6 separate regions of the Homo sapiens genome follow, and all the other regions are reported to be linked to region 5. Evidence: microRNA targets listed by miRTarBase, many of them from high-throughput screens and not tested one by one. Region 5 holds a microRNA gene; each other region holds the end of a gene's coding sequence.
Evidence for each region. Region 5 holds the annotated microRNA hsa-miR-6499-3p (AGCAGUGUUUGUUUUGCCCACA, at 2,819-2,840, opposite strand). A microRNA usually pairs through its seed, bases 2 to 8, with sites in the 3' UTR of a target mRNA and lowers its output. Matches are read on the target gene's strand: a 7mer-m8 pairs with bases 2 to 8, a 7mer-A1 pairs with bases 2 to 7 and ends in A, and an 8mer does both.

Region 1: miRTarBase lists KBTBD12 as a target of hsa-miR-6499-3p. Seed matches in the 3' UTR shown: 7mer-A1 at 774-780 and 7mer-A1 at 2,966-2,972.
Region 2: the mRNA of SPATS2L is a reported target of hsa-miR-6499-3p. Seed matches in the 3' UTR shown: 7mer-A1 at 2,640-2,646.
Region 3: miRTarBase lists MOAP1 as a target of hsa-miR-6499-3p. Seed matches in the 3' UTR shown: 7mer-m8 at 3,013-3,019, 7mer-A1 at 2,902-2,908 and 7mer-m8 at 2,690-2,696.
Region 4: miRTarBase lists SPIB as a target of hsa-miR-6499-3p. Seed matches in the 3' UTR shown: 7mer-A1 at 1,933-1,939, 7mer-A1 at 2,227-2,233 and 7mer-A1 at 2,967-2,973.
Region 6: the mRNA of ASPA is a reported target of hsa-miR-6499-3p. Seed matches in the 3' UTR shown: 7mer-A1 at 2,079-2,085 and 7mer-A1 at 3,415-3,421.

The regions. Positions count from the first base shown.
Region 1 is chr3:127,983,597-127,987,596 of GRCh38, forward strand. KBTBD12 (kelch repeat and BTB domain containing 12) reads left to right here. Exons shown (of 6, transcript NM_207335.4): 6 at 501-4,000. The coding sequence ends at 682. Among named protein-coding and RNA genes, the nearest start is that of SEC61A1, 67 kb to the right of the region's middle.
Region 2 is chr2:200,477,492-200,481,622 of GRCh38, reverse strand. SPATS2L (spermatogenesis associated serine rich 2 like) reads right to left here. Exons shown (of 13, transcript NM_001100423.2): 13 at 1-3,987. The coding sequence ends at 3,592. It overlaps LOC101927741 (a long non-coding RNA gene), which reads left to right and starts at 3,650. Exons shown (of 7, transcript XR_007088047.1): 1 at 3,650-4,078.
Region 3 is chr14:93,179,967-93,183,966 of GRCh38, forward strand. MOAP1 (modulator of apoptosis 1) reads right to left here. Exons shown (of 3, transcript NM_022151.5): 3 at 2,233-4,000. The coding sequence ends at 3,221. Among named protein-coding and RNA genes, the nearest start is that of MOAP1, 2.9 kb to the right of the region's middle.
Region 4 is chr19:50,427,735-50,431,865 of GRCh38, forward strand. SPIB (Spi-B transcription factor) reads left to right here. Exons shown (of 6, transcript NM_003121.5): 6 at 304-3,580. The coding sequence ends at 602. Among named protein-coding and RNA genes, the nearest start is that of MYBPC2, 3.1 kb to the right of the region's middle. RefSeq lists enhancers at 1-496, 497-1,069, 625-914.
Region 5 is chr5:151,519,270-151,523,400 of GRCh38, forward strand. MIR6499 (microRNA 6499) reads right to left here and starts at 2,879; the gene lies at 2,818-2,879. FAT2 (FAT atypical cadherin 2) reads right to left here. Exons shown (of 24, transcript NM_001447.3): 19 at 2,007-2,817. It also overlaps a transcript of SLC36A1 not described here. RefSeq lists enhancers at 860-1,029, 2,715-2,884.
Region 6 is chr17:3,498,498-3,502,628 of GRCh38, forward strand. ASPA (aspartoacylase) reads left to right here. Exons shown (of 6, transcript NM_000049.4): 6 at 394-4,131. The coding sequence ends at 591. It also overlaps a transcript of SPATA22 not described here. Among named protein-coding and RNA genes, the nearest start is that of ASPA, 25 kb to the left of the region's middle.

The DNA of each region.
Region 1 (4,000 bases), not on the chromosome of region 5:
ACAAAAATTAGCCAGGCATGGTGGCATGTGCCTGTAATCCCAGCTACTCAGGAGGGTGAGGCGGGAGAATTGCTTGAACCCGGGAGGCGGAGGTTGCAGTGAGCGAGATTGCACCAGTGCACTCCAGCCTGGGTGACAGAGCAAGACTCCGTCTCAAAAAAAAAACAGTCTGGCTTTCTTGATTTCTCTCTTTTACTCCTTCCCTGTCCCAGTGACCTCTTTGCAAATGCCCACTCCCCTTCCATTTTCTGCCATGAGTTGAAACAGCCAAGGCTCCCACCAGATGCAGATCCCCAGTCTTGAACTCTCCAGCCACCAGAATCGTGAGCCAAGTAAATGTCTTTTCTTGATAAACTACCCAGTCCTGGGTATTCTGTTAACAGTAACAGCAAGTGGACTAAGACATTGCCTTTTGGAGGAAGTTACTCAGTATGGTGCTGATGGCCTCTGAATTTAATACCCACATGAGATTTTTGTCTTCCCACTTTGCTGTTTTTCAGATCGCCATGAGGTTATCTCCAAAGAAATATTGGAACTGGACCCATGGGAAAACCAGTGGAATGTTGTAGCCATCAACGTCCTCATGCATGACAGCTATGATGTCTGCCTAGTAGCCAGGATGAATCCCCGAGACCTCATCCCCCCGCCTTCAGATTTGGTGGAAGAAGGCAATGAGCACTAAGGTGACCTTGCTGGAGGACCTCCTGCTGTTCTGCAAACAAGGCCTTCAGAACGGAGAGGGCCCACAGCATCTCTGTCATGCCAGTCATGTGCACTGCATGCGTAGTGGCCTGTGTGTGAAGAAGCAGTGTGTGCTGGGCACTGGGTGGGGAGCATGGGGAGTCTCCCTTCAGGGACTTCCCAGCCTGATAGGGTAAATAAGACACTACAAAGAAGAGGTGATGACGGCCACAGGAGGGGCACAGGGCCACAGGAGAGCAGCAGAGGGAGGGTCTCACTCTGCTGGGGACCCATGAACAGCACTGCCAAGGAGCAGACCTTTTATTGGGTCCCCAAAAGGATGAGGAGGAAGTGGTCCCATGGGTGCAGTCAATGATGAGTTCATGGAAACAGCCAAGCAAGGGCCCAGAGACAGAAAGCTCGTGCCTGTCTGCAGTATCCTGGCTGGGCCAGATTGCCTGGGGCACAGGGTTTGTGGTCAAGGCTGGAAAAGTAGGTTGTAGCTAGATGACCAACGCCTGAAAGAATGAGGAGTTGGACCTGGTCTGTAAGCCAGGGAATTGTCTCAAAATCGTGCATTAAGGGAGACTTCTCTCTGTGCTCTGTTCCAGCTTCAGTCTTATAAACACTGACCATTCTCCTTCAGAATCCCCTTCTACTGAAGCAACGCCACCCAGCAGCAGGGCTAGCTGTACTACCAGCCCCTAACAACCAAGGCACTCAAGCCAGACCACAGTGGCCAAGAATCCTGCCCTGGGCTGACTCTGTCCGGGACAGGGATGTGGGGTTCTGCAGCCTGGTCCACTCCGGGGCTGGCAGGGAGTGTCCTGGAGTGGGCTGACCCAGGCTGCCTTTGCCCACCTCTCAGACACATACAACCATCTGCAGGGTAGTCCTGGCTGAACAGGACTCGCCCAAGCCACCCAAGCCAGGGACAGAGAAGGCTCTGGCTGAGGACAGGGGAAGAAGCATCTCCTCCAGCTGCTGCCAACCCCATGGCCCGGCCTTTGCAATAAAGATGGAGCCACCCACTTCAGCCCACAATTGAGCATAATCAGAAGACAGTCACTCCCAAAATATATGTTAGAAATAACATTTAAATGACACATGGGAAGTCCGTCTATCTTACTTCCCGTCTCTAATTCTGGAAGCACAGTGGATTCAATGAGGGCATCTTCATAGCTCTTCTTCAGCAACTTCTCCAAAGAGTTTCACATTGCACAAGGCTCTTTTGGAAGCAGGAGTGGTCAGTAAATTCAGAGGGAGACAAACCCTAAGTAGAGACAGCTTTCTTTGGTGCTGAGCTGTGTGATTGTGATGACCGCTAGCCTGTGCCCCTAGGTTCCAGCTGCCCACCAGGCAGGACAGGCAGGTCTTGCCAAAACTGGAGCCTGTTGGAAACCTATTTCTGCCACCAAGGAGAGGGACCAGGAGACCCAGCGTAGGTTGGCCCCAAGTAGGCTCAACTCGGGAGGGTGGGGGTCCCGCCTTTCTCTTCGCACTTGTGCCCCAAGTGCACTCACAGTACCTGGCATGTGGGTGACCTCTTGGGTGGCCGGCATGGGGCAGTGTTTCTCAATCAGAGGGCCTGGGCCCCGAGCACGTCCAGGAATCTGAGTTAAAGTGAGCTTACTCTTTCCCCAGTGGATGATCATGATCTGTGCATTCTTTTTCTTGCTACAAAGATGTTCCTCCTAGCTGCTGTGTTGGCTGTCGGCGGCCAGGGTTGAGGACGGCCTCCACAGGGCCTCCACTTCCCTCCATTCCTCTTCACATAGTCACTCCACCTGCTCCACCTGCTTGAAAAGTCCAGAAAGCTGCCGCGTCTCCCTGGCTCAAGGAGGCCTTGTTGGCATGTCATGGCACATCTCCTAGATGTTTTGGGTTCAAGATCTGGGTTCCAGCCCCCGCTCTGCTACTTAGCTAACCATGTGAACTTGGGCAAGATGACCTTTCTAAAGCCTCATTTCCCTCATATGCAGAGTGGGAAGGAAAATATTAATACATACTTTATAGGGTTGGTATGAGGATTAAGTGCTGAGCAAAGTGCCTGTGAAATCCTGAAATAATAAGCATGTTTTAGCTGCCATTATTATCATCACTGTCATTATCATTGCAGTCAGCACTTCCCAAAGCAAGGTGCCCAAAACAGACTCAGTGCTTTAGGGAAGTGGGGCAGATGTGCATATGGCTTGTGACGGTTCTTTCTTTTTTTTTTTTTTTTTGAGACGGAGTCTCTCTCTCTCGCCAGGCTGGAGTGCAGTGCAGTGGCACGATCTCAGCCCACTGCAACCTCCGCCTCCCAGGTTCAAGTGATTCTCCTGCCTCAGCCTCCCAAGTAGCTGGGATTACAGGCGCCCACCACCACACCCAGCTAATTTTTGTATTTTTAGTAGAGACGGGGTTTCACCATGTTGGCCAGGATGGTCTCAATCTCTTGACCTCGTGATCTGCCCGCCTCGGCCTCCCAAAGTGCTGGGATTACAGGCATGAGCCCCTGCACCTGGCTGAGATGGTTCTTAATTTCCCATACCCTGTTGCTTGGCTCCTCCAGTTGGCGGCTGAGAGTTAAGCAAGGGTTTACTCGGATCTGAGGCCCCCGATGCCCTCAATGGACACATTCAGGACCCTGTGGCAGCTCAGCAGAGGCACCTGAGGGTCACGCTAGGTGAGACCATCGCCCGCCTGTGGGAGGCAAGATAAGTGGGTAAACATCATTCCTGTCTAATGCGAGGTCTGGGCAGTGTCCCAGTGGAACTTTCCAGAGAGTGCCAAGGGAGGACCGAGAAGGGGCATGACCTCTGCTGGAGCCAGGAGGGCAGTGACCAGGAGCTGGCTTAGCACTGAAGGGAAGCAGGCATCAAGGGCAGGATTTCTCAAACTTCTTCTGAGGAATCCCCGAGGTCGAAACCGGTGCTTCACAGATTTCAGATGTCTGATCTTGATTTTTCTTTGATTCCATACAACAGATTGCTTGCCTGGGTTAGTGCTTATTTTAAGTTCTTGGTGCTTCTTGTCTGACTTCTGTATTTGCAATTAAAAACAACATGACCCTCCCCACCTGCAGCCAGATATCGTTAGAAATTCAACTTCGAAATATATTCCTATCACTCCTGTTTTCACTTTAATAGAAGGCTGTTGCAGTACTGCATGATGGGCTCTTATAAAACTTCTACTATCTGCTAATTCTTATCTTTGTGACAGGATTGTTTGACACTGAGCAAGGAAACACAATAAGGAAGTAATTTGGATGCTAGGCTGGCAGAAGCCTGCAGCTGTCAACCACAGCCTGCCCCAGTGTGTTCAACACGGTGGCATT
Region 2 (4,131 bases), not on the chromosome of region 5:
AAACGTTTTACCATCTGTAGACACATGAGGGCGCTTTAAGCAGGCAGCGTGGGATGCAGCGTGCAAAGGGAGGGAGGGAGGAAGAAAGCTTTGTCAAAGGTAGCCTGAAATTCAGGCATCTCCCTATCTGGTTGCGGACCTGTGCCTGCGTCGGGGTGGGGAGCACCGAATCGATTTAGGAAAAGAACTGCGCAGGCCCTTGATCCCCACTTCTCATGGTGAAATCAAGTTTGAGGTTCAAATCAAGGCTTTCAGAGAGTCAGAATTTCCAAATCTGTTACTTTGTCAAAAAACTGCTTTTAATCTGGTAACGTTTCCCATTAACCTCATTTGATGTCCTTCCCTAAGAATGTTTAATTAGAATCTCCTTTTCTGATGCCAGCAGAATTGAACTGCTTGTGAACTGAGCTTTAAATTGGACATGTTGTGTTTCTAGTCCTCCACTGAGGGTGAATTTTGCAGCAATTTGCGTTTAACTTTCTGTGTCTTGCTGCATTAAGCACTTCTAGAATAGGATCAACAGGACAGAGCTGGAGTATGCAGAGATTCTCAAAAGAAATGTAAATTTGGAATGTAATTGGGAACCCAACAGGGAGGTGTGGATTTCACGGATGAAGTCTTGGTGGAAGATCTAAGTGCCACAATGTGAGTTTGAAGTTATTCCATCTTCATAAGGATTAAACTATTTTAACCTCTACTAGGCAAATGTTTAAGAGAATAATCTGACTACTGTGCATTAAGTAGAGAGATTAGAGTTTAAAACACTTTAAATGAATGGCAGAATAGGACTCAGTTCTCTAGGATCACACCAATAGTTCCACCAGACAGATGAAGATATGTAATACAGTGTTTAAGCGGCCTGACATTGGCACTAAAATATTGAAATTACTGTTTCAAAAATGCAAACTAATAAATGCTTACATGCCCAGGGTCTATAAGAAAGGCAAAAACCAGCCAGGCGAGGTGGCTCATGCCTGTAATTCTAACACTTTGGGAGGCCAAAGCAGGAAGATCACTTGAGCTCCGGAGTTCGAGACCAGTCTGGGCACCATAGTGAGACCTCGTTTCTACTAAAAATTTAAAAAGTAGCTGGGACGTTGTGGTGCACACCTGTAGTCCTCGCAACTTGGGAGGCTGAGGATGGCTTGAGCCCAGGAGTTCAAGGCTATAGTGAGCCATGATCATGCACTCCAGCCTAGGTGATAGAGCAAGACCCTGTCTCAAAAACATGCACTCCAGCCTAGGTGATAGAGCAAGACCCTGTCTCAAAAAAAAAAAAAAAAAGGAAAAAATATTGGAAAAAATGTGATCAGGTCTGAGCACTTTTTAGCATTCTTTTGTTTCTTTTCAGTGACATGGGAGTGTTTGCTCTGTGCTCAGGAATGTGTTTGGGCTTTCTTAACCCTAAGGGAGTGAGTCGAGGTCAAGAGTGGTTGGGTTCAACTCTGACAAAGGCAGGTGAACTCCTGACCTGGCAAATTCATTTTTTTCCCTGTTCCAAGAATTACTTGACTCATCTTTAAAGCGGTCACATTTACACTGACATTTTTCAGTGGTGAGCAAAATCTTGCTACATAAAAAACTGTGCAAAATCCTTCCGTCTTGTAATATATGAATTCAGGGCCTCAGATGGGGTAAACAGGGCCTACAGTGCCGAACATTTATCTTTCTTATTTGAACGAACAACTCTTCCTTCCTTCCTGGAATGTGACTTAACGTTAAGAATTTCTATTAAATCTCTGGGTACACCCAGAGACCTCAGAAAGCTCTCTACAGAGAGAGCAAACATCCTCCTGTACTTGGCAAAAGAAGAAACAGATGCTTGCGTGGCTTGCAGGCTCAGCTGCTCAGGGCCGCTCTGTGGAAGAGAACCAGTGAACCTGGGTTGCCAGAAAAAATGTTAATGTTGAGTTGAGAATAAGCATTTGCACTTGTGAGTAGTCAACAGATATGTAGGACATGTGAGTGCAACGGAAGCGGCACCCAAACTGGACTGCCCTGTAGTCAAAGTTAGGGGAACTGGGGCTATTTTGGGTTTGGGCCATTGGGTATCCATTTTCCCTTTCTGAGAAGTACCCCTTCTCCATCTAGCTCAGGAACTCTGGGAAGATGGCCACACCCAGGCTCCAGGGGTGGGCTCTAATTAGTCTATGCAAATTAGTTCATCCCATTCACTTCTCTCCCCCCTTTCATGATTGGTTTAAGAGACAGGCCTACCAGCAATGGTATGCAAGACCTTTGCTGGGATTTCTGAGAAAGACACTTGCTCTGTGTAGAAGCTACTAGGATAACTTCTCTCCTCTGGACAGTGTGGAAAATAGACTTGAGTCTTAAGAGCATGGTGGCCCTTTGCCACAATTCTGAATGCAATGTCAACCCAAGGAGGAAAGGAGAGCTAAGATAATTAAGAGATGGGAGCTGGCCGGGTACGGTGGCTCATGCCTGTAATTCCGGCAGTTTCGGAGGCCAAAGCAGGTGGATCACCTGAGGTCAGGGGTTTGAGACCAGCCTGGACAACATGGTGAAATCCTGTCTGTACTAATAATATAAAAATTAGCAGGGCGTGGTGGCACATGCCTGTAATCCCAGCTACTCGGAAGGCCGGGCAGGAGAATGGCTTGAACCCAGGAGGCGGAGGTTGCAGTGAGCCGAGATCATGCCATTGCACTCCACCTGGGTGACAAAGCAAGACTGTCTCAAAAAAAGAAAAAGAAAAAAGAAAAAAAAAAAAGAGATGGGAGCTGAAATCCTGATCAAATTGGACCAACTGGACTTTTCACTCACTGAACCAATAAATTCTTATTGTTGAAGCTAGGCTCAGCTGAGGTTTGTAGTACTTGCAACCAATGTTTCCAACTGCCCAACTGCCACATGGTGTGTCTAAGATGATCAGGGTGCATATCCATCTATTTGTGTAATCTAATTGAAAGGGCATATATATATTTTCCTGAAAGAGTACTTGTCTCAACAGAAACAGTATTTATTGTACACAGCTTTGCACCACAACCTCTAGTCTCTAAAGTTTTTTTTGAAAGCACTAAACAGTACATTCAATAACTAGGTGGGTATCAATAAAAGAAACTAGCCAGGTGTCAAATGCAGCATATTTTAATTTGTTTCAAATAAAGCAATATATGTATATATATTTTTTCAGAAAAACACCAGATGTTAAATTCTACAAAAGCGCATGTGTCCTCAGCAGATCATGTTTGTCTGATTATTAAGAATTCTTTTTTGTAACATTAACTCTCTAAAGACAATCAATGGACTGACATCACTGCTACAACACAGGTTGCTAACTGAGCCTCTGATCTTCAGCCACATCTTGATTTTCCTAATAATGAGTAAATACTGCCTGGCTAAAATGCTGCAAAGTCTTGATGAGAGAAAGCATCAACAGATCAAGCAAAGCCATGAAAATTATGAAGCAAGCTAGAGCTGATTATTAGAATTAGTAAAAATGATTAAGAGAGGATGACACAACCATACGGGATTTGTATATTCTGATTGACACTCTTTTGGCAGCGAATTGGGTCAGCACCTCGGGCAGGGAACCAAAACTGAGTGAAAACTGCTCTTTTTCCTCCTAGCTCAGGCCACCAACGTCACAGCCGGGACTGAGAGAACTGCTGCATCTGTGGAAACTTCTATTCTCGTGGGGCAGAGATTGCACTGTGAAACCCTACCGACACTACCCCGGAAGGGCCTGGCCTCCGAGGTGTCTGCAGCGTGCTGCCTTCGCCGGGGCTTTTCAGAATGGGCCGGGGCCTCGGGGGTCTTCATCCCCAAGGAAGCCTCTTGATTTTTGGCACCGCCTTTGTTTTTGGGCCGGAAGCCGTTGTGCGGCTGTCTTCTGTGTTCGTGGCGGCTGTTGCCCTTTCCCAGTGGCTCGGCTTCATTCCCACTGCCCTGCGACTTGGCAGGCCCATTTAGCCTGTTGTTATGATACTGTGGATTAAATCTCCGTCTTTGGTTAGAAGATCCATTCTACCAAAAAAGAAAAGAGATAAGTATCAGATGCCAGCAAGCCACTGATGACACCAGTAGACATCAGGAAAACCAAATCTCTAAGCCACAGGTAAGCTTTTTTTTTTTTTTTTTTTTTTTATACACCAGAAGAATCAGAAAACA
Region 3 (4,000 bases), not on the chromosome of region 5:
TTCTCTTTCCATCGTAGAAGAACTTACGGGAACTTAATCATGACATTTAGTCATAACACAAACATTATACTATGCCTTTGAATCTAAAACCAGGGTGTACATCCCAAATTTGGGTACTTTTATGAAAGGCTTTATCCTACCTTTCAGCAATTGTCAACCATGCTTCATTTTTTTTTTTTTTTTTTTTTTAGGTAAAAGATAACCCATGCCACCTGCCCAGGTCTTATAGAGTCTCATATTCTCCACTGCTAAGTGTTTAATTTGCAGTAGGACTCTGATTCAGAATAACGTGCAGCTGACTCTTGAGCAACAGGAGCTTGAACTACACAGGTCCACTTATCCACAGATTTTCTTCCGTCTCTGCCACCACTGAGACAGCAAGACCAACCCTCCCTTTCCCCCTCAGCCTGCTCAATGTGAAGATGACAACCAGGATGAAGGCCTTTATGATGATCCACTTCTTTAATGAATTGTAAATATAGTTTATCTTATGATTTGCTTCCTTTTTTTTGAGACACAGTCTCGCTCTGTTGCCCAGGCTGGAGTGCAGTGGTGCCATCTCAGCTCACTGCAACCTCCGCCTCCCAGGTTCAAGCGTTTCTCCTGCCTCAGCCTCCCAAGTAGCTGGGATTACAGGTGCATGCCACCATACCCAGCTAATTTTTGTATTTTTAGTACAGATGGGGTTTCACCATGTTGGCCAGGTTGGTCTCAAACTGCTGAACTCAAGTGATCCACCCGCCTTGACCTCCCAAAGTGCTGGGATTGCAGGTGTGAACCACTGCATATGGCCATATAATTTTCTTAAGAACATTTTTTCTTTAGCTTACTTTAATATAGTATATAATACAAATAACATACAAAATATGTTAACCAACTTTCTGTTATTGGTAAGGCCTCCTGTCAGTAATAGTAAAGTTTTTGAGGAATCAAAAGTTATGTGCAGATTGTGCAGTGGGCTGGCTCCCCTAAGCCCCAAGTTGTTCAAGGGTCAACTGTACTCCCCTCCAATGCACATAAGATGGACACTTATGAAATGGAGCCAATGCCTGCCCTGCCTCCCTTGTGAGGCTATTCGGTATAGATACCCTGATGATTGTTTCTCTTTCTTGGCAGTAGAAAGAACATGGGCCTTGCAGAAAGACAAGAATTCTGGCCTAATCGCTCACTACACTTACTACAGAGGATAGAATTCTGGCCCAAGGATGTTTCACCTTGACCAAATTTCTTTTTTTTTTTTTTTTTTGAGACGGAGTCTCGCTTTGCCCAGGCTGGAGTGCAGTGGCACTATCTTGGCTCACTGTAACCTCCGCCTCCTGGGTTCAAGTGATTCTTTTGCCTCAGCCTCCTGAGTAGCTGGGACTACAGGCACCCGCCACCACGCCCAGCTAATTTTTTGTGTTTTCAGTAGAGACGGGGTTTCACCGTTAGCCAGGATGGTCTCTATCTCCTGACCTCGTGATCCGCCCGCCTCGGCCTCCCAAAGTGCAGGGATTACAGGCATGAGCCACTGCGCCCAGCCCTTGACCAAATTTCTAACCTTTTGTGCCCATTTCCACAAGTGTGAAACTGAGTTTTCCTATACCGCAGGAATTTTTTAAATTAATTATTATTTTTTTTTAGACAGGGTCTTGCTCTGTCACCCGGTTGGAGTGCAGTGGTATGATCATGGCTTGCTGCAGCCTTGACTTCCTGGCCTCAGGCAGTCCTCCAGCTTCAGCCTCCTGAGTAGCAGGGTCTGCAGGCGCACACCACCATGCCTGGCTAGTTTTTAAAAATGTTTTGTACTTACTATGTTGCCCAGGCTGGTCTCGAACTCCTGGGTTCAAGCGATCTTCCTGCCTCAGCCTCTCAAAGTGCTAAGATTATACTGCTCAACCTTTTTTCAAGAGGATTAAATGGGAAAGTACATGGAGAAACTTTTAGTCCAATCTTCCAAGCAGCAGCATGCAATGTTCATTTCTTTCCTTCTCCTTCCAAATTTGACACACTGATACATCTGCACTACTCGCACTAATTTGTGCACTGTCTTGTTTCATCCCATTGTTTTACTGCTTCGGTAGAAGGTCCCTTCACTTAGAAAACAATTTCCTACCCCTGAGCACCAAGAGGAAAGAGTCCAAGGAACTAAGTCTGTGTAGGTTCAGTGGTTTGCAGATTCATGCTTTGGGAACTCTTTATTCAAATGAAATCTCTCTTGGAACCGTGATATAAACAAAACAGACAAAGTCATTTTATTAGCATTCCTTTATTTTAGAAGTTCACACCTATAATTTTATAACAATCGTGAAAATGTTACTCAGAACTAGATGTTTTGATGACACATAGCAGAAATCTGTGGTTCAAGATGGTCATTGCAAACTTAACCAATCTCAGCATTCTATTCTGCCTTTTGTTTTGATTGCACAGAATCAATATAATTCTGATTCATATGGAAAATAACTTAATATCTTAACCTCCGCTCAGGATCTTCATCATAAATGTAGGTCAGTACATACCTAAAAATTGTCAATGATCCAACATGGTCACATGTGACATGCTACACTTGCACCTAGTACCAAACAAGCTGATACTTCAATGAGATCTGGTTGGCATATACACCCAAGCCTTGTCTGTCCCCTCAGAGCACTGCACACAGATAGTGAAAGAACTTGTGTACAATAAGAAATTCACAGGGATGAGGCTGGGCGCAGTGTCTCACGCCTGTAATCCCAGCACTTTCAGAGGCCGAAGCAGGTGGATCACTTGAGGTCAGGAGTTCGAAACTAGCCTGGCCAACATGGTGAAACCCCGTCTCTACTGATAATGCAAAACTTAGCTGGGCGTGGTGGCACATGCCTGTAGTCCCAGCTACTCGGGCAACTGAGGCAGGAGAATAGCTTAAACCTGGAAGGCGGAGGATGCAGTGAGCCAAGATCACGCCACTGCACTCCAGCCTGGGTGACAGAGCGAGACTCTGTCTCAACAACAACAACAAAGATATTCACAAGGATGAATTTAAATAGGTAAATGGCAGTGTAGAACTACATCCTTCCTAGTCAATTACACCTTTAGGAGACTTTAAATAGGCACAGAAACGACAAAGGGCTTATACTGAGAATTGCACAAAAATGAGTTACTTGGCAGCACAAGGTAGGGATTGTATGTGTCACAAGAGTATATAGACTGTTCTACCTTCATGCTCTACTCATTGCCATATCCCTTCGTGGTTCCCTGAGACTCAGGTGAAATTACCTTCCAATATTGCCTGGAGAAGGGCCTCCTCCTCCTCAGCTGCCTCATAATCCTTTATTAGTACCAATAACTGCAAGAAACCAGGGGCTGGGCCATCCTCTGGCAGATTAAGCTCTCTGCGAATTGTTTTGTGGACTGCCCCAGCAATGACTTGGTCTAGGCGGGCCTGATTCACAGCATCTCTCTCAATTGCTCCTCTCTGTACCAGCTTCTGTAACAAAGGCTCCAGCCTTAGTACATAAGCCGACAACTTTTCCTCATCCTTCTGGTAAGTGGTTAGATATTTGACCTGCAACTCCCTAGGATTATCTGTAACCCCAAATACCTCCTCAAGAGCCTGCAGACATTCATCGACAGTAATTAAAGGATTGTTTATCTTGAGGACACGAATAACATCAAGTGCTGGGCCTCGAAGGCTCTCTAGCAATCGCCTTCTCTTCTCTACATCTGGCACCTGCCACGCCTTTATCATCTGAGTAGTATGAAACATCCAGCGTCCAAATTCTTCTTCTCCTGGTTCTGGAGACTCCCTGCCCGAGAACACTCTCAGCTTTTTATACTTCAAGCATTGCAGGGCAGGCTGAAGAGCCTCTAATGCCTGTGCCAACATAGGGGCCCACATTTCCGGGATCATGCCCTGCTCTGGGTCTAAGGAGCCATTTTCATGTCCAAGAGCTCTGCTCAACTCACCCACTGTCATGCCCTCTCCCGCTAAAAATTCATTTAATCTGCTTAAAAATGTATTATCTGGGTCAGGGGGCTTAAA
Region 4 (4,131 bases), not on the chromosome of region 5:
CAAATATGGAATATTACGTGCTGGCCGCAGGGCGGAAGGCAGGACAGATGTAAATCTCGAAAATTAAAGCACAGAACGCGGAGGGGGCCTGGGGCTGACAGCTTCGGGCAGGGGGAGTGGCTTGCCCCCCCCCCCCCCCGTGGTGAGGGGCGCAGAGCCAGGTGTATGTAACAGCCACTTCCCTCACCCCACTTTTCAGATCCAGGAGATGGAGGCCGGGGTGGAAGTCTCGGAGGAGGGTGGATGGGGAAGGCGGGGCCTTAGGGACCCCTCACCTAACGCGTGCCCCCGACCCCACCGCAGGGACTCGCAAGAAGCTGCGCCTGTACCAGTTCCTGCTGGGGCTACTGACGCGCGGGGACATGCGTGAGTGCGTGTGGTGGGTGGAGCCAGGCGCCGGCGTCTTCCAGTTCTCCTCCAAGCACAAGGAACTCCTGGCGCGCCGCTGGGGCCAGCAGAAGGGGAACCGCAAGCGCATGACCTACCAGAAGCTGGCGCGCGCCCTCCGAAACTACGCCAAGACCGGCGAGATCCGCAAGGTCAAGCGCAAGCTCACCTACCAGTTCGACAGCGCGCTGCTGCCTGCAGTCCGCCGGGCCTGAGCACACCCGAGGCTCCCACCTGCGGAGCCGCTGGGGGACCTCACGTCCCAGCCAGGATCCCCCTGGAAGAAAAAGGGCGTCCCCACACTCTAGGTGATAGGACTTACGCATCCCCACCTTTTGGGGTAAGGGGAGTGCTGCCCTGCCATAATCCCCAAGCCCAGCCCGGGCCTGTCTGGGATTCCCCACTTGTGCCTGGGGTCCTCTGGGATTTCTTTGTCATGTACAGACTCCCTGGGATCCTCATGTTTTGGGTGACAGGACCTATGGACCACTATACTCGGGGAGGCAGGGTAGCAGTTCTTCCAGAATCCCAAGAGCTTCTCTGGGATTTTCTTGTGATATCTGATTCCCCAGTGAGGCCTGGGACGTTTTTAAGATCGCTGTGTGTCTGTAAACCCTGAATCTCATCTGGGGTGGGGGCCCTGCTGGCAACCCTGAGCCCTGTCCAAGGTTCCCTCTTGTCAGATCTGAGATTTCCTAGTTATGTCTGGGGCCCTCTGGGAGCTGTTATCATCTCAGATCTCTTCGCCCATCTATGGCTGTGTTGTCACATCTGTCCCCTCATTTTTGAGATCCCCCAATTCTCTGGAACTATTCTGCTGCCCCTTTTTATGTGTCTGGAGTTCCCCAATCACATCTAGGGCTCCTCCAAGATCCTTTTGTCATGTCTGAAATCACTCTTGAGAGGTCTGGGGTGGAGGATGGGGAGTCAGTGAAATGTGTCATGTCTGGGCCCTGTCAGGGACACCCTTGTTATATCTGGGATCCTCCAATCACATCTGAGACCTCCTAGGCTCTCCATCTGATATGCCCTTTCAGGGACCCCACAAAGACTGAGTTCTCATGGGGATCCTACCCTTCCTAGTGCCACTCCCTATGGCCATGCTGAAGACCACTCTGGCCACGCGACTGATTTTGGGTGATCATGGCAGCTCCCCACCCATGTCATTTCTAACCAGAAGTCTCAAGGTCGTCACCCCCCTGCCCCCCAACCGAGGCCCCGGTCGCTGGTGGTGGTCTCTTTAGTGCACTGTAGCACTTGGTGGTGGAGGTGTGAGGGATCCACATTAACAGCAGGCCATCAGCTGGGCAATGGCTCACACCTGTAATCCCAGCACTTTGGGAGGCGAGGCAGGGGGAATGGCTTGAACCCAGGCATTCAAGACCAGCCTGGGCAACATAATGAGACCTCGTCTCTACAAAACATAACAAAAACAATTAGCCGAGCGTGGGGGTGAACACCTGTGGTCCCAGCTGCTCAGGAGGCTGAGGTGGGAGGATCTCTTGAGCCCAGGAAGTAGGAGGCTGTAGTGAGCTGTAATCGTGCCACTGCACTCCAGCCTGGGCGACAGAGTGAGACACCGTCTTAAAAACAAAAACAAGGCCGGGCACGGTGGCTCATGCCTGTTGTCCCAGCACTTTGGGAGGCCGAGGCAGGCGGATCACGAGGTCGAGAGATCGAGACCATCCTGGCCAACATGGTGAAACCCTGTCTCTACTAAAAATACAGAAATTAGCTGGGCGTGGTGGCACGTGCCTGTAGTCCCAGCTACTCGGGAGGCTGAGGCAAGAGAATCGCTTGAACGTGGGAGGCAGAGGTTGCAGTGAGCCTAGATTGTGCCACTGCACTCCAGCCTGGGGGACAGAGCGAGACTCCGTCTGAAAATAAAAACAACAAAAACAGCAGACCATTCAAAATAGGGAGACTTTGCATAATCCAGATTTCTGCCTTCACTTAAAACTTTGGACGGTCTGGAGAGAGTCGGCCAGTTTTCGGTGGGGGGTGGGGAGCTGGAACAGGACAGTAGCCTTTCCTAATGAGGCATTTGTTCTCCAATCTGCCCCAGTCGCTGCCATCCCTGGCTATCTCACCCTAGCAGCTTCTCAAGCCTGTTGGCTTTAGACCACTGTATAAACCCAGCTGGAACTGAAGCCTGGGTGGACTATGGAGCCCTGGTTGGGACCCCCAGGGAGTCAAAGGCTGCGGGCCAAGAGGCCAGAGGTCCTTGAGCCTGGGTGGGCAGGTGGATCTAGGGTGCATGACTTGCTGCTTCCCAACCTTAGTTTGTCCCTTCTGTGAAAAAGGGAGAGAAGGAGGAGGAAGATCTCAAAAAGACTTTCCAGCCCAGTGCGGTGGCTCACGCCTGTAATCCCAGCACTTTGGGAGGCCGATGCAGGTGGATCACCTGAGGTAGGAGTTCAAGACCAGCCTGACCAACATAGTGAAGCCCCTTCTCTACTAAAAATACAAAATTAGCTGGGCGTGGTGGCATGTGCCTGTACTCCCAGCTACTTGGGAGGCTGAGGCAGGAGAATCGCTTGAACCTGGGAGGCGGAGGTTGTAGTGAGCTGAGATCACACCACTGCACACCAGCCTGGGCGACAAGAGCGAAACTCCGTCTCAAAAAAAAAAAACTGTTGCAGCCCCGTTGAGCCTTTGACACCGCCTGAAATCCACCCCACTCCCAGGAGGAGGAGGAGGAAGGAATGCCAATGACCTAGAGACACGAGAAGTCCATGTGGAGGCACACAGCAGCTGATGGCAGAGCCCAGGCTGGGACCTGCCCTTAAGAGAATGAGTGGGAAGGGGGAGGGAGGAAGGGCAGGTAAAACGTCCTCCCCAGGGCCCCCTGCAACGGGGAAGGTACTTTTTACAAAAGCTATCATTGTCACCCTAAATGTGGAATAAAATAAGATGCATCGACGTAGACAAACCTCCTGGGACCTTTTGTCAGGGACTGCAATCCTGCCCCTCCACTGAGGCCGCTGGCTCTCAGAGACACCGTGACATCACGGGTGATGATGAGAGGAGTTCAAAGAGAGAATTATATGCTGGCGCGGTGGCTCTGTAATCCCAACACTTTGGGGGGCCAAGGCAGGAGGATCGCTTGAGTACAGGAGTTTGAAACCAGCCTGGGCAAGATAGTGAGATCCCCTTCCCACCCGTCTACAAAAAAAATAAAAAATTAGCGGGGTGTGGTGGCGTATGCCTGTAATTCCAGCTACTCCGAACTACTGAGGTGGGAGGGTCACTTGAGCACAGGAAGTTGAGGCTGCAGTGAGCCGTGATCGTGCCCCTGCACTCCAGACACGGCGAGACCCTGTCTCAAAAACAAACAAACAAATCACAAAGACACCATACAGCAAAACCTATCTGAACCTTAATGCCGAGAAATAAGAGGCTTGACGCGCAGGCACAGAGGGTTCCGTTTATGTCTTCCTCTATTCCTGCCAACTGAAGTTCTCCACCTCCTCCCCGCTTCCCCTTCCGTCTGGGTGTCTGTCCCCTTCCCTCTGAATTGAGCCCTCGGGCTGGCAGCGAGGGACGCGAGGCTTCAGGTGGCCGCGGCACTGCAGGCCTGGGCCCCTCCCCAACTTAGCGGGGCTCGCGGGAGCGCAGTGGCAGTCTGCCTGGCAACCCGTGACATCACATGGAACTGACGCCGGATTGGCTGGACGCTCCCCGGAGGCGGAGAAATTTCCGGCTCGTAGGGGGTTTTGGAAAAGGAGGAGGGGGAAGATGAAC
Region 5 (4,131 bases):
GGAGGTGGAAGTTGCAGTGAGCCAAGATCGTGCCACTGCACTCCAGCCTGAGTGACAGAGCGAGACTTCATCTCAAAAACAAAAACAAAAATCCAAACAAGTCCAAAATTCCCTGACACTGGCAATTCCATTGTAGTAGGTACTTATTGGATGGGATATTGAAGATGATCTAGATCAGAAATTCCCACCCCGGCTGGATATCAGGATCAGCTGGAGAATCTTTATGACACAGAATCCTAAGTTCTCTCGGAGAATCTGATTCAGTAGTTCTGGGTGGCACGTGGAAATATGTATTTTAAAAATCTTACCATCATGGGTGTAACAACTGGAAGGGGGGCCCAAGGGAGGCTTCTGAGATGGTGGTCATATTCTTTCCTTGATCTGGGCGTTGGCTACACAGATATATTTGCTTTATAAAAATTATTTGAGGTGTGTACTTATGATACATGAATTGGTTTCCTGTATGTTTTATATTTCACTAAAATGTTAAAAAATAAAAAACCTCTTTTCAACTGATTCTGGTGATCCATGAGTTTATCTAGTATTTCTTCAATGCAAGCCCTTGCACCTGCTGCTTCAGAATTAAATGCCAATTCTAGGACTCACTCAGAACCTTCTAAATTAAAACCTCTGGAGGTGACACCCAGGAGCATGTCTCTTTAAAATCACGCTCTCCAGTAGACTTTGCAAAATCTTGAATTTTAGAACCCCTGCTGTCTGATGCCAGGTGGCTGAGAGAGACCCTTCAGCCTTCTTGGCTTTCCCTGAAGCAGGCCCTGGGGCAAGAAACACAGAGAAGGAAATCCTCTCCCCAACAGAGAGAAGCCCACCCAGCCTAAATCGAGTGGTCCCTGGACAAAGTCCACAAATCTTCTGAGAAATGATATCCCGAATGCCAGGCAGCTGGACCCATAAAGGGCAGGTCAGGCCAGGCCAGGCAGGAGCGCTGGTGAGCTGAAGGTCATGTCACTTTCCTTTAGCCAAGGCTCCTGAGCTGCTCCCTTGGCCTTAATGCCAGGGATGCTGGGTGAGTCTTGGAGTGCCTGAGGAGCTTAGTGAAGAGTTCAGGCTTTAGAGTGGGACACACAGATATTTGAATAACGAGGCCTTCATTGGAAGCTGTACAATTTCAGGCAAACTAAATCTCATATCTCAGTTCCAACTGCAGATGGGGCTAATGACCCTGCTTGGTAGGGCTGTGGTGCCGATTAGTTTAGGTGACATCTACACAGAGTGTGGCGTACAGCAGGCTCCCTATAGCAACTGCTACCACGGGAATGACAGTCACCGTTGATCTGGGGCTTATTGTGGGCCAGCCATGGGTTAAGTGCTTTTATAACTCTTACGTAATTTCCCCCCCGAACCCAACTCCAGGAGGCAGATGTATTTATTTTGACTATTTTATAGATGGGAAACTAAAAAGCTCAGAGGGTTTTAACAATACACCCAAAGTTACACAGCTAGTGACTGATGGAGCTAGGGTTTGAACCTGAGCTGTCTGAGTCTAAGCCTTGAGCTTATAACCACCAGACTATGGTAATAATAGTAGCAGTATTAGTAACTCACATGTATTGACCACTTTCTATATGTCAGGCACTGTTCTAAGCAAGCACTTGATACATAGTACTGATGTAATTCCTACAGCAGCCCAGCTCAAAGGCACAGAGAGGTTAATTTTCCTAAAGTCGCCTGGTTAGTAAGGGGTAGAGCTGGGATTTTAACCCATGAAGACTGAAGCCACAGCCTATGCTCTTAGCCATGATGTTAAACCACATATTGTAGTCTTACTGTTATTTTCTAAATCTCGAAAGGGAGCTGAGAATTGGGTATTATTCCATAACTAGATTTTGTGAGGCCACTAGCCGTCTTATGGTGATTGGTGGCCTTTGGGCTTATTAAAACTTCCCTGAACTCTCCCACAGAGCCTCAGTGGAATCTCCATGCTTAGAGTCAGGCGGGCTGAGCCCAGCAGTGCTGCTCGTCCCTAGGGAAGATGTAGTACTTACCATTGCAGGAGCAGCTCCTCTGCAGGTGGTGCCGCGGGGTTAGGATGCTGAGCCTGGCGGTGCTGTACGTGGGCCCAACCTTGGGGTCCAGATGCACTGTGTTATGGCAGATTTGACCCTGGCAGGTTGGCCCCTGGCAGGGCACCATGGGCATAGCTGACCGCATCTGAACCCCCACTGAATGCTCCATCTCCTTGGCTGAGTGAGTGATGATGGATGCTAGCTCCTGAAACTCGTAGAAGGTTCCAGAATGCCCCTCAAAGACCAGGAGCACATCCACACCAGCCACGGCCTCTGCAGGCTGGAGGCTGGCCAAGTGAATGTTAGCCCGTTTGATGTCCAGCTTATGGCTGAGGAACCTCTGCAGGTTCCGCCAGTGGTCACTCACCAGCTCCTCGGGGGTGAGCTGGTAGAAGCCCATCCACATGGCCTGCTGCAGAGCCTCCTGCCCCACATGCCACACGTACACATGGACCCCAGCAGTCGTGGTGAAGGTCCCATCGCTGACCGTGACGTTGAACGAGTAGTGGCCACGAGGCAGGCCCTGGGCGGCGATAATCTTGCCATCAGGCGCACCCACTGAGAAGTGCCTGCCCAGGGTCTCCTCTTCTGCCAGGCTATAGGTCAGCGTGTCCTGGGGGTCTCGGTCTGTGGCATGGATCTTACCCACCATGCCACCCTGGAACTCATCCTCTCCAACAGTGATGAAGATCTCCAGTGGGAGAGCAGAAGGTGCATAGTGGCTCTGCTCTGTGACATGGACACGGACAGACGTCAAAGACGAGAGGGGAGGGATGCCACTGTCTGACGCCTGTGGGCAAAACAAACACTGCTGTCACCCAACAGAACTGCAGTGCTCTTGCGCCCGACTGAGGCTGGGCCTCCTTGTGGAGCTACGTTTCTCTGCCCCACGCCCAACTTGAGGGCTGGCTCAGCGCATTGTTGCATTTAGAAAAAAAAAACCTAACTCCAAAAGCACTGACAGAAAAGAAAGATTTTCTGAAGGTTTTGTAGAGATTGAAGGAGGGAGTTACATCCTATACCATGCAGTAAAACAATGCAGTTTCCTCATGTGACATCTCTCTGAGCCTCTTCCTAAATCTCTCCAGCCATAGACTTGGGCTAACTTCCTCATGAAGTTTCTCATTCTGTCCCTGTCCTCAAGGGCGCCCTCAGATGTCTCAGCAATTCTGATGCACCATGCACCCTGCTCAGCCTACGAAAATTCCCCTTGGGATTCCCTTTTGCTATGCGATTGGAGTGGGAGTCGGGATTTGTCCTTCTAGTCAGTCAACGAAGTCTTCTGCTGTGGCCAGGAGAAAAGAGACAATAAATAAGTTACCAAATAACTTGGATAAAATGCTGGGAAGGAAATAAACAGAGACCTAACTTTGATCAGGTAGAAGAGAAGGAGTCTCTGTGGAGTGACATTTGAGTCCTGAGGGATGAGAAGAAGAGGCGACAGACAGAGGGAGCAGCAAGTGTAAGGTCCTGGGGTAGGAATGAAGGCGGTGTGTTCAACAGCACAGACGGGGTCACTGGTGCTGGAGCAAGTGGGCAGGGAAGCAGGCCTGACCTCACTGATGGGCTGGCACGCGCAGGGTTGCAGTTAATGTCAGAACTGTGAAAAGCCGTGAGGGTGACAGGACCTCACTTAAGTAGGGAAAAGAATGTAAATCATAAACGCATTTTCCTTTCATGTTTCACCACACATCCCTGCAACTTCCTGCCTGACTTAGAAAGGACAGGCTTGCCTTCTTCTCCTCAGTGATGTTATCACTTCCTCAGCTGTCAACGAGGGTCTCCACAATTTTCCCTGTAGTAATATCTTGTTCACCTGCACTCCAACACTTTTAATGTACAAGAAAGTTGATAAGATTACACCTACTGCTGGAAGTCATGCATAACACCGAAGAGATATTAATAGCAACAATAATAATTAACACTACTGTTAATTATAATGTATAGCTAACATTAGTTACAACAATACTACTACTACCGATTATATATAATACATAGCTAACATTAACTGAGTACAATGCTAGTCATTATCATAGATAAACTATGATAATGCTGTAAATACATTATCCTAGTTTATCCTTCTTATGAGATAGGTACTATCAAG
Region 6 (4,131 bases), not on the chromosome of region 5:
CCACCACACCCAGCTAATTTTTCGTATTTTTTCTAGAGATAGGATCTCTGTGTTGCCCAGGCTGGTTTTGAACTCCTAGGCTCAAGCGATCCACCCACATTGGCCTCCCCAAGTGCTGGGATTACAGGCAAGGAGCCACTGCACCTGGCTGAAGCAAATGTTAATTACACGTTTCAATTATACAAATGCAAAGGGGAACTCTTAAAACTACTGCCAAAATTCACGACCCAATGTCAGCGCAGTCAGATCACTTGCCTGCATCTCAATGCCTCGCTCAAGTATCTCTTTTAAAACAACAGAATACTGTAATTTGTTAGTTGTCTAGAGTCTGACATAAATTTTTAGAGGAGAAAAACCAAATATAATATATTTATTTTGATTGTTTCCTGAGAGGATCAAGACTGGAAACCACTGCATCCTGGGGATCCCATGTTTTTAACTCTTGATGGGAAGACGATCCCACTGGGCGGAGACTGTACCGTGTACCCCGTGTTTGTGAATGAGGCCGCATATTACGAAAAGAAAGAAGCTTTTGCAAAGACAACTAAACTAACGCTCAATGCAAAAAGTATTCGCTGCTGTTTACATTAGAAATCACTTCCAGCTTACATCTTACACGGTGTCTTACAAATTCTGCTAGTCTGTAAGCTCCTTAAGAGTAGGGTTGTGCCTTATTCAACTGCATACATAGCTCCTAGCACAGTGCCTTATTCGGTAGGCATCTAAGCACATTTCTTAAATTAATTAATATATCTTTAAAGATATCATATTTTATGTATGTAGCTTATTCAAAGAAGTGTTTCCTATTTCTATATAGTTTATTATACATGATACTTGGGTAGCTCAACATTCTTAATAAACAGCCTTTGTATTCAGAATATAAAATTGAAATAGATATATATAAAGTTATTTGTTTTATTGTGCTTTGCCTTACTACACTTCACGGATACTGTACTTGTACTTTTTTTCCAAATTGAAGGTTTTTGGCAACCCTGTGTCTAGAAAGTCTAACAGTGCCATGTTTCCAACAGCATGTGCTCACTCCTTGTCTCTGTGTCACCCTTTGATAATATTTCAAGCTTTTTTATGATTTATTTATTATATCTGCTATGGTGATCTGTGATCAGTGGCCTTTGATGTTACTGTTGTTAAGTGTTTTGGGGCACCATGAATCGTGCCCATGTGAGACTGCGAACTTAGTGAATGTTGTGTGAGTTCTAACTGCTCTACTGACCGGCCATTTCCTTGTCTCTCTCCCTGTCCTCTGGCCTCCCTGTTCCTTGAGACACAATAATTAATAAGTCTACAGCAGACTCTGTGTGTTCAAGTGAAAGAAAGGGTCATACTTCTAGAAATTAAGCTTAGTAAGGAAGGCATGTCAAAAGCTGAGACAGGCTGAAAGCTAGGCCTCTTGCACTGGTTAGCCAAGTTGTGAATTCAAAGAAAAGGATCTTGAAGAAAATTAAAAATTCTACTCCAGTGCACACACACAAATGATAAGAAAGCAAAACAACCTTATTGCTGATATGGAGACAGTTTTAGTGGTCTGGATAGAAGATCAAACCAGCCACACATTAAGCCAAAGCATGACCCACAGCAAGGCCCTAACTCTCTTCAATTCTGTGAAGGCTGAGAGAGGTGAGGAAGCTGCAGGAAGCTGGGAGAGGTTGGTTCACAAGGTTTAAGGAAAGAAGACAGCTCTAAAACCTACAAGTGGAAAGCGAACCAGCAAGTTGCTGATGTGGAAGCTGTAGCAAGTTATCCAGAAGATGTAGCTAAAATCATTGACAAAGATGGCTACACTAAACAACGGATCTTCAGTGTAGTTGAAACAGCCTTCTATTGGAAGAAGATGCTATCTAGGACTTTCCTAGCTAGAGGGGAGAAATGAATGCCTAGCTTCAAAGCTTCAAAGGACAGCCTGACTCTCTTAAGAGCTAACACAGCTGGTGACTTTGGGTTAAAGCCAAAGCTCATTAACTGTTTCAAAAATCCTAAAACTCTTGTTTTTTGTTTTTTTTTTGAGACGGAGTCTTGCTCTGTCGTCCAGGCTGGAGTGCAGTGGCGCAATCTCGGCTCACTGCAAGCTCCGCCTCCCAGGTTCATGCCATTCTCCTGCCTCAGCCTCCCCAGTAGCTGAGATTACAGGTGCCTGCCACCACGCCCGGCTAATTTTTTGCATTTTTTTAGTAGAGATGGGGTTTCACTCTGCTAGCCAGGATGGTCTCGATCTCCTGACCTCATGATCCGCCTGCCTCGGCCTCCCAAAGTGCTGGGATTACAGGCATGAGCCACCACGCCCGGCCCAAAAATCGTAGGACTCTGAAGACTGATGCTAAACCTGCTGTGTCTGAGCTCTATAAATGGAACAACAAAGCCTCGCTGGCAGCACATCTGTTTGCGGCATGGTTTACTGTATATTTTAAGCCCACTGTTGAGACCTACTGCTTGGGAAAAAAAAAAATTCCTTTCAAAATACTACTGCTGATTGACAATACACCATGTTACCCAAGAGCTCTGCTGGAGATGTGCGAAGAGATTAGCATTGTTTTCGCGCCTGCTACCACGACATCCAGCCGAAGCCCATGGATCAAGGCGTCATTGTGACTTTCAAATCTAACTATTTAAGAAATACATTTCAGGCTGGGGGAGGGGAGAAAAAAGAAAAAAAAGAAAGGAAGAAAAAAATCATTTCATAAGGCTATAGCTGCCATAGATAGTGATTCCTCTGATGGAGCTGGGCAAAGTAAACAGAAAACCTCTGGAAAGGATTCAGCATTCCAGATGCCATTAAGAACATTCAGGATCCGTGGGAGGAGATCAAAATATCAACATTAACAGGAGTTTGGAAAAAGTGAATTCCAACCCTCTTGGATGACTCTGAGGAATTCGAGACTTGAGTAAAGGAAGTCATGCAGATGTACAGCAAGAGAATGAGAAGTGGAGCCTGAAGATGTAACTGAACTGCTGCAATCTCATGATCACACTTGAATGGATGAGGAGTCGCTTCTTATAAATGAGCAAAAAAGTGGTTTCTTGGCTGCAATCAACTCTTGTTGCAGATGCTGTGAACACTGTTGAAATGACAAAGGATTTAGAATATTACGTAAACATAGTTGATAAAGCAGCAGCAGGGTTTAAGAGGATTGACTCCTATTTTGAAATGAGTTCGGCTGGGAGAAGTGGCTCATGCCTGTCGTCCTAGCACTTTGGGAGGCCAAGGCAGACAGAGCACCTGAGGTAAGGAGTTCGAGACCAGCCTGGCCAACATGGTGAAACCCCCTCTCTACTAAAAATACCAACATATTAGCCAGGCGTGGTGGCACGTGCCTGTAGTCCCAGCTACTTGGGAGGCTGAGGCAGAAGGATCACTTGAACCCAGGAGGCAGAGGTTGCAGTAAGCCAAGACTGCGCCACTGCACTCCAGCCTGGTGGACACAGCAAGCCTCCATCTCAAAAAAAAAAAAAAAAAAAAAATGAGTTCTACTGTGAATAAAATGTTATTAAACAGCATTTCATGCTACAGAGAAATCTTTCACGAAAGGAAGAGTCAATCAATGCAGCGAACTTGTTGTTTTATTTTAAGAAATTGTCACGGCCATCCCAACCCTCAGTGCCCAACCACCCTGATCAGGCAGCCATCATCAAGGCAAGGCCCTCCACCAGCAAAAAGATCATGAATTGCTGAAAGCTCAAATGATGGTTAGCTTTTTTAGCAATAAAGCATTTTTAATGAAGGAATGTACATGTTTTAGATATAATGCTATTACACATTTAACATACTACATATAGTGTGAGCATAACTTTTACACGTACTGGAAAATCAAAAAATATGTGTGGCTCATCTGTTATAATGTTTGTTTTATTGTGGTGATCTGGAGCCAAGGCTGAAATATCTCTGAGGTATGCCTGTAATGTATAAGTGCTAGTAGAAATGAGTTGTGCAGAATTGCTATTTTTTTCAATTTTTATATTTGGGTTAATGGTAATATACTAAGCGTCCAGTCTATAAACTTCAGCATTCGTTGCGAAATCCAGAGGAGACTTTTAAGTGCTGTTTTGTAGATGAAATATGAAAGAGAAACAAGGGCTTAATGGTAAAGATGACATATGACTATATTAAGAAACTGA